2 separate regions of the Homo sapiens genome follow, and region 1 is linked to region 2. Evidence: fine-mapped expression QTL. Tissue or cell type: aorta. Region 2 holds a variant in brackets; the other region holds the start of a gene. All regions are shown on one strand. Distances are from middle to middle. Region 1 holds the start of ARPP21 (cAMP regulated phosphoprotein 21). Region 2 has its middle 120 kb from the start of ARPP21.

What was found. PIP is the estimated chance that this variant, and not a neighbour inherited with it, causes the effect. A credible set is the group of variants that fine-mapping cannot tell apart.
Region 1: it holds the start of ARPP21, and the variant in region 2 is the best candidate, but not a certain one, in a credible set for the expression of ARPP21 in aorta (GTEx, PIP 0.84).

What each region holds. Positions count from the first base shown.
Region 1 is chr3:35,637,889-35,640,808 of GRCh38, forward strand. ARPP21 (cAMP regulated phosphoprotein 21) reads left to right here and starts at 1,637. Exons shown (of 21, transcript NM_001385562.1): 1 at 1,637-2,510.
Region 2 is chr3:35,522,731-35,525,650 of GRCh38, forward strand. No RefSeq gene overlaps it. Among named protein-coding and RNA genes, the nearest start is that of ARPP21, 120 kb to the right of the region's middle. The variant T/C (reference allele first, on the strand shown) is at 1,315.

The sequences.
Region 1 (2,920 bases), 120 kb after region 2:
GAACACCAAGGGAGACAATTTCGAATAGTTGGAAAATAATTACCTACTCATCAAGGGTCGGTACAACCTCATTCCATTTTTACAGTAGTTTCTAGAAGTACATGTATCATTTATTTGAGATTTATAATCAATATCTTAGCGTATATGAACACAGCCATAGCTGTAGAAATCACATTTCTATAATAATGCAAAGGCATTTATGTTAATAAATCTGTTTGTAATCTCTGTCATTATGGTTGGGTGTCAATAAGTGAAACTAAAAGGATGTGGAAAATTTCATAACATGTTTTATGCTAGTTATTTGTTTGTTGTCTATTCATGGGGTTACTAATTACAACTGGTAAAAGTTGATTTTCTCCTCTTCAGTTTATTGTGGGATGGGGCGTTCATTTCGCCAGATACACAGTTATTCAGTGTCTACATTTCAGAAGCTGAATTGCTGGATATAGTCAAAATGAGCTTTGGCAATTCCATGTGTGAGTGTACAACTATAATTTTGCTGCACATTAATAACAACCTTGCAAAGAAGCCCAGAATCAAATGCCTTGCTCTCAGCTGGGAGCAGAAAGCTAGAGTGGTATATCTTGGCTGGTGACCTATAATGTTGGAAAAGTAGGCTCTACATTCACTCAGAAGGAGTAGGTGGAATTCCGGAAATTTATTCACTCTCCTTCACTACGCCTTTTCCTTTTTTTTTTTTTTTCCTTCCTTGTAGTGTGTTAGTGAGTGCTCCGAGACAATGAAAAAAAACAATGAATTACAGACAATAAAAATAGTGCATCTCTAGAACAAGCGGTAAAATCAAGGCTTTTATTTCTTCAGGTGTCAACTCTGTTCCTTCCCCAGGTCCTACCCTGCCCAGGTTTCTGTGGCACCTCTGTGATTCCAAATCAGCGATCAGGTGGGCAGCGGTCTGGGCAGTCACCCACAGGGAGTACACTTGGTGCTGCACGTTCGGACTTTCAGTCTTGCTCAAAGCAAAGAATCTCCAAGAGCGCTGAGGCTACGGATTCATTCGGGTGGGGCGAGGTGTTATTATTGTGGGATTGTCTCTGCAGAGTTGGCCTGGAGAGTGAGCGGTGGAGGGAGTGGAACAAGGCTTCGTCAAGAGTCCCCAGGAGTCCAGGGGCGCCCCCGAGACGGGTACGCTGGAGGGCCTGGGCACGGGGGACAAGAGAGAATACATGCCTGCTCGCTGGGAGCAGGGAGGCGGTGTGGCGGGGCAGGGGGCAACGTGCCAGTTTTCTTTCTGATTAATGATGCTCACGCTGCTGCGCGTGGCTCATGCGCTTTGTCTCCAGCCTTAGGGCTGGCGGAGAACGGCCCAGGGAATGAGTGGTACCGCGGGCGCCCGGCGCACCCAGCAGGTGCCATCACTCTGGATGGGCCAGTTCTGGATGCTCCCAGTGGCGCAGAGGCGGCGACACTGGCAGGCGTCCGGCTGCCGCCACCTCCCGGGTGTGGCGGGTCTGGGGCCCGGGGTCTCCGGCCAGAGCAGCTGTGGAGCCACGTGCAACACGCGCGTTGCCCTCAGCCCGGGCGGGGACCGGACGCATCCGGAGCTGCGGGGAGGAGCCGGGCGCCGCCCCCGGCGGCAGTGCCAGCCGCGTGGGAGGGCACGGACCGGCGGAGGGGCAGACGACGGAGGCGGCCAAGCTGGAGGAACGGGACCGAGGGATCGACCGAGGCTGGCTGGCTAGGGGTGGGACTGGCAGAGCTACGGACAGGTGGGAGCAGTCAGACAGCCTGAGAGAGGGAGACCAGAACGCAAAGAGAGCGAGAGCATTAAGTAGGCAGGGAGAGGCACACAGAAAGATAGACAGCAACACTCGCGTGCTCCCTCCCTCCACACGCCCTCCTCTTACCGAGCGAAGCGGCCAGGGGCACAGAGTGGGAGAGGACTGTGGGCACAGAAGACCGGAAGAGGGACGCTGCATTGCTGGTGGGACGGAGGGATTCGGACGGACGGACAGACCAGCGCACAGACTGGCAGCCTGCGAGAGTGGCAGCTTTGAGAGCAGAGCGCAGCAAAGCGAGAATCCCGCGCCGAGCTGCTAGTCGGACCCACAGACGGTCGGACTGACAGACGTGCAGACGGACAGAAGAGCAGACAGGAGGCGGGGGCGCGTTCACTCCCGGCGGCCAGCCGGCCAGAGAAGGCGGCGGTGGCACCTTCTGAGCGCGTCCGGAGCAGAGACCAGCAGCAGCAGGGGCAGCGGGGACACAAGCCGCGACCGAGCCGCCGCCGCAGCCCTGGCTGCCACAGCTGTGTGGGATCCCAGCCGACACTGCAGAAAGCTCCTTTTACTAGCAGTTAAATAAATCGACCAAAAACAAAACAAACAAACAAACCCAACAACAACAACAACAACAAAAGCCAAGCCAAAAGCCAAAACAAACAAATCCAGCCAAATCAATCATTGAGAAACAATAATATTAATAAAATCCAAAACTAAATCAAACCAATCAAGGCACCAAGACGCAGGGGGGATATCCACAGTTCGATCAAGGTAATAATCAAGGTCTTCCGACGTGAACATTGCACGCCTTTTGTGGATTTTTAGAATTCCTTCTTTCTTTCTGCCATATATCTGTCTGTTTCTTTTGAATTTTTTCTTGTCTGTATTTCTTCTTCGTGTTTGTAGAAAGCTGATGTTGTTATACATGTATTGTGTTTTTTATGTTTCGTCAAGGAGGGATGGACGCTCCTTCCCCCAGAAAAGACAGAAATGGAAAGCTGGAAGTTGGCAATGATTTTCATCAGAGAAGTCTACAGTGATTTGTATAGGCTTTATGGTAGAAAGTTTGCAATGCTCTTTTTGAAAGAGACCTATTGAAGAGGTAGAAAGTTATACTCTGTTTGTTGTCCTGGAAGGATTGGGGTCCTAGGTCCCAAAGGGCTCAAGGGGAAGAATAGAAA
Region 2 (2,920 bases):
AGACGAGACACTGAAACCTAGTTCCTACATTAGAATCTGATTTTGTTGTGAATACAAAATTCCTTCAGTTGGTATCAGACGTCCAGAGCATGTTGGGGTAGGGGAAGGCTGAGGGAATGGTTTCAGGATGAAACTATTCCACCTCAGATTGTCAGGCATTAGACTCTTAGGGAGCGTGCAACCTAGATCTCTCACATGTGTGGTTCATGCTAGGATTTGTGCTCCTATGAGAATCTAATGCGGCTGCTGATTATGGCCTGAGGTGGAGCTCAGGCCATAATGCTCTGCGGCCCGCTACTCACCACGTGCTGTGTGGCCTGGTTCTTAACAGGCCACGAAGTGGTTGTGGCCCCGGGTTTGGGGACCCCTGGTCTAGAGACCTTAATTGAGAAGGATCATGAGGCTTCATTTGTACCCAATGGAAAAGAGCTTTATGATCCATTATGATGTCTGGCTCAGTGATGGGACACCGGACTGAGGTCTCTTGTACTGGAAATGGGACAGACTGGTTCAGTGCCCCACCTTCTTTTCGACACTTGCAGAGTCTAAGATATGTAAATAATGCTTTCTCACACAGCTAGTGAATGCCACATACTGGAATGAGAAACCAGATTTTCTGAGTTCCAGGAACCCTGATGTTCAGGATCAAAAACCCTCTAATACCAAGAGTCAAATTATCTTTCCTTTTTTCTTGTTCTAGCAAATCATTTTTACAATTATTTCAAACCGTCTCTTGATACTTTTATTCTTTCTAGCACCTCAGTTAAATTGCTTTTCTTCTCACACAACCATTATGACAATCCCTTTTTAAACTGGTTTCTTTGTCTCTCACTGATTACTATACAATCAGCCCTGTTCTCAGTACTAGATAAATCTTCCAAATGCATTGTTATCATAATCTCAATCTCCAGCTTTAAAAATTCAACAACATAAACATTTGCAAGAAAAAAATGTATTCCTCAAACTACATTTTAATCCCTTTCATGACCTCAAACTACCAGTTGGGAACATGTATTTCCTACTATGATCCAGCATAAAAAATATCCACCAGCTATTTTAGTTTTGTCATACATTAAAATATGGCATCATAATCTCTACCTAACAAAACCCTTAATCTGTTTTCTCTACCTCGTTGTCAGTAACTGCCTCCCTACCTCTTTCCGGTAGTTTATCCTACCTCACAACAGAAATATCTATAAAACTTCTAAAATTGTCTAGTTAAATAAAAAAAGACAAACATCTATACACATAGATTCACAGTTTGCTTTTACCCAACAATAGTCTCATTGGCGGTGCAGCAGCCAGCTGAAATAA[T/C]TGGAAGAGTGAAACATTACATTACGTAAGGATCTTGGAATGTGAAGAACAACAAAGAATGTTCACTCAAATCTATTCTTTACACAGTAATAAAACCCAATAAATATTTTTCTGATAACAATGTTGATATCAAAAAATTGTAGTTACTCAGTTTGGCCATAATTTTATTAGCCTGAAGTATATCTACATACTGATTTTCCCCTAAAATAGATCCTTTTGAATCCCTAGCCAATTCTTTTCATTACTTTTCTGAAATTGATCAATTTCATCCCTGGCTTGTTTGACAGTCAACAAGGAAATTGAATTGCTCTTGAACAAGTAAATGGGTTCCCACTCTTTTCCTACTTGAAAGAAAATACTTATTTGTAGCACAAATAAACACCATACATGTTCATTTCCACAATACAAAAATTCTTTGAAGAATTCACTGAACTGGAAAATATAGTGGGGGTAAGAAACTGTACACAAGCCTGGAAAATGAATTAGGATAAAAAATCTGACACCGTCTGTACCTATTTTTCTCCTTGTGTAAGAAACAGCTTTGGCACCAAAAGTTCCAGTTATTTTATATAGCTCTTTACCAGAAGACCGGATCTGGTGAACTTGCTGGGAATCTATTCTAGAAGTGCTAGAATTTTTTTCATTGAATGTTCTTTGATATTGTTTCTACTTTAATTAATTTTAAGAGAAAATCAGAAAATACTATTAGTTAATACAGGCAAAATTCTGGGTATATGTAATTCCACAGATTACTACAGTTTATCTCCAAAAGCCATAATCAAATGTCACCTCAAGCCTTTAGAAACCTAATTTCACGTGACTGTTTCATCGGTCTTTGTCATGGAGTCTGCACCATGGCCTCCTGCTGTGTGGTTGGCTCATAGGACTCTTCCCCTGAAGAGACCATAGAGATAACTCTGTGATGTACTCCCTCTGTGCTATAGTCACTCTGCTCTCTGTGCCTAGCAGGGTCAGCTGTGTTTTCTTTTCCTGAGAGTTCTGTATTTTAAATGAGATTCCAGTTGTCTATGGTGTACTTCTATTAACCTAAGAGTTGCCCTCCTGGTGTAATCATTAACTACTGCTCTTCTGTGGCAGTTATTTTGAGAATGAGGTGTCCATTTAGGAATTCCAACTTCAGAATTCTATTTATGTTCTCAAAATGGTAACTGCTTTAAATCATCATCACATTAATGTATACTCTTTAAATTGTTAAAATACAGCACTGTATTAAGCAAAAAGGAAAACTGTGTCTCCCCAGCTGCATCATCCTATATGTTCAATTCTTCAAAATTAGCTACTGTTAACAGTTCAATGTGTATACTTCCAGCCATTTTAAGTGTGTATATGTTTGTGTCTCTGTATATGTGTGTATGTGTATACATGGGTATATAAAGGACACACACATATATAATTTATATTCATATTACTACATTTCAATGTTTATCATATAAAAACATATATAGCATATTCTTCTAAAAATATCTTCATTTAACTCTAAATACAGGCATACCTCAGAGGTATTATGGGTGTGGTTCCAAGACCACTGCAATAAAGTTAATACAGAATAAAGTGAGTTGCATGACGTTTTTGGTTTCTCGGTTCA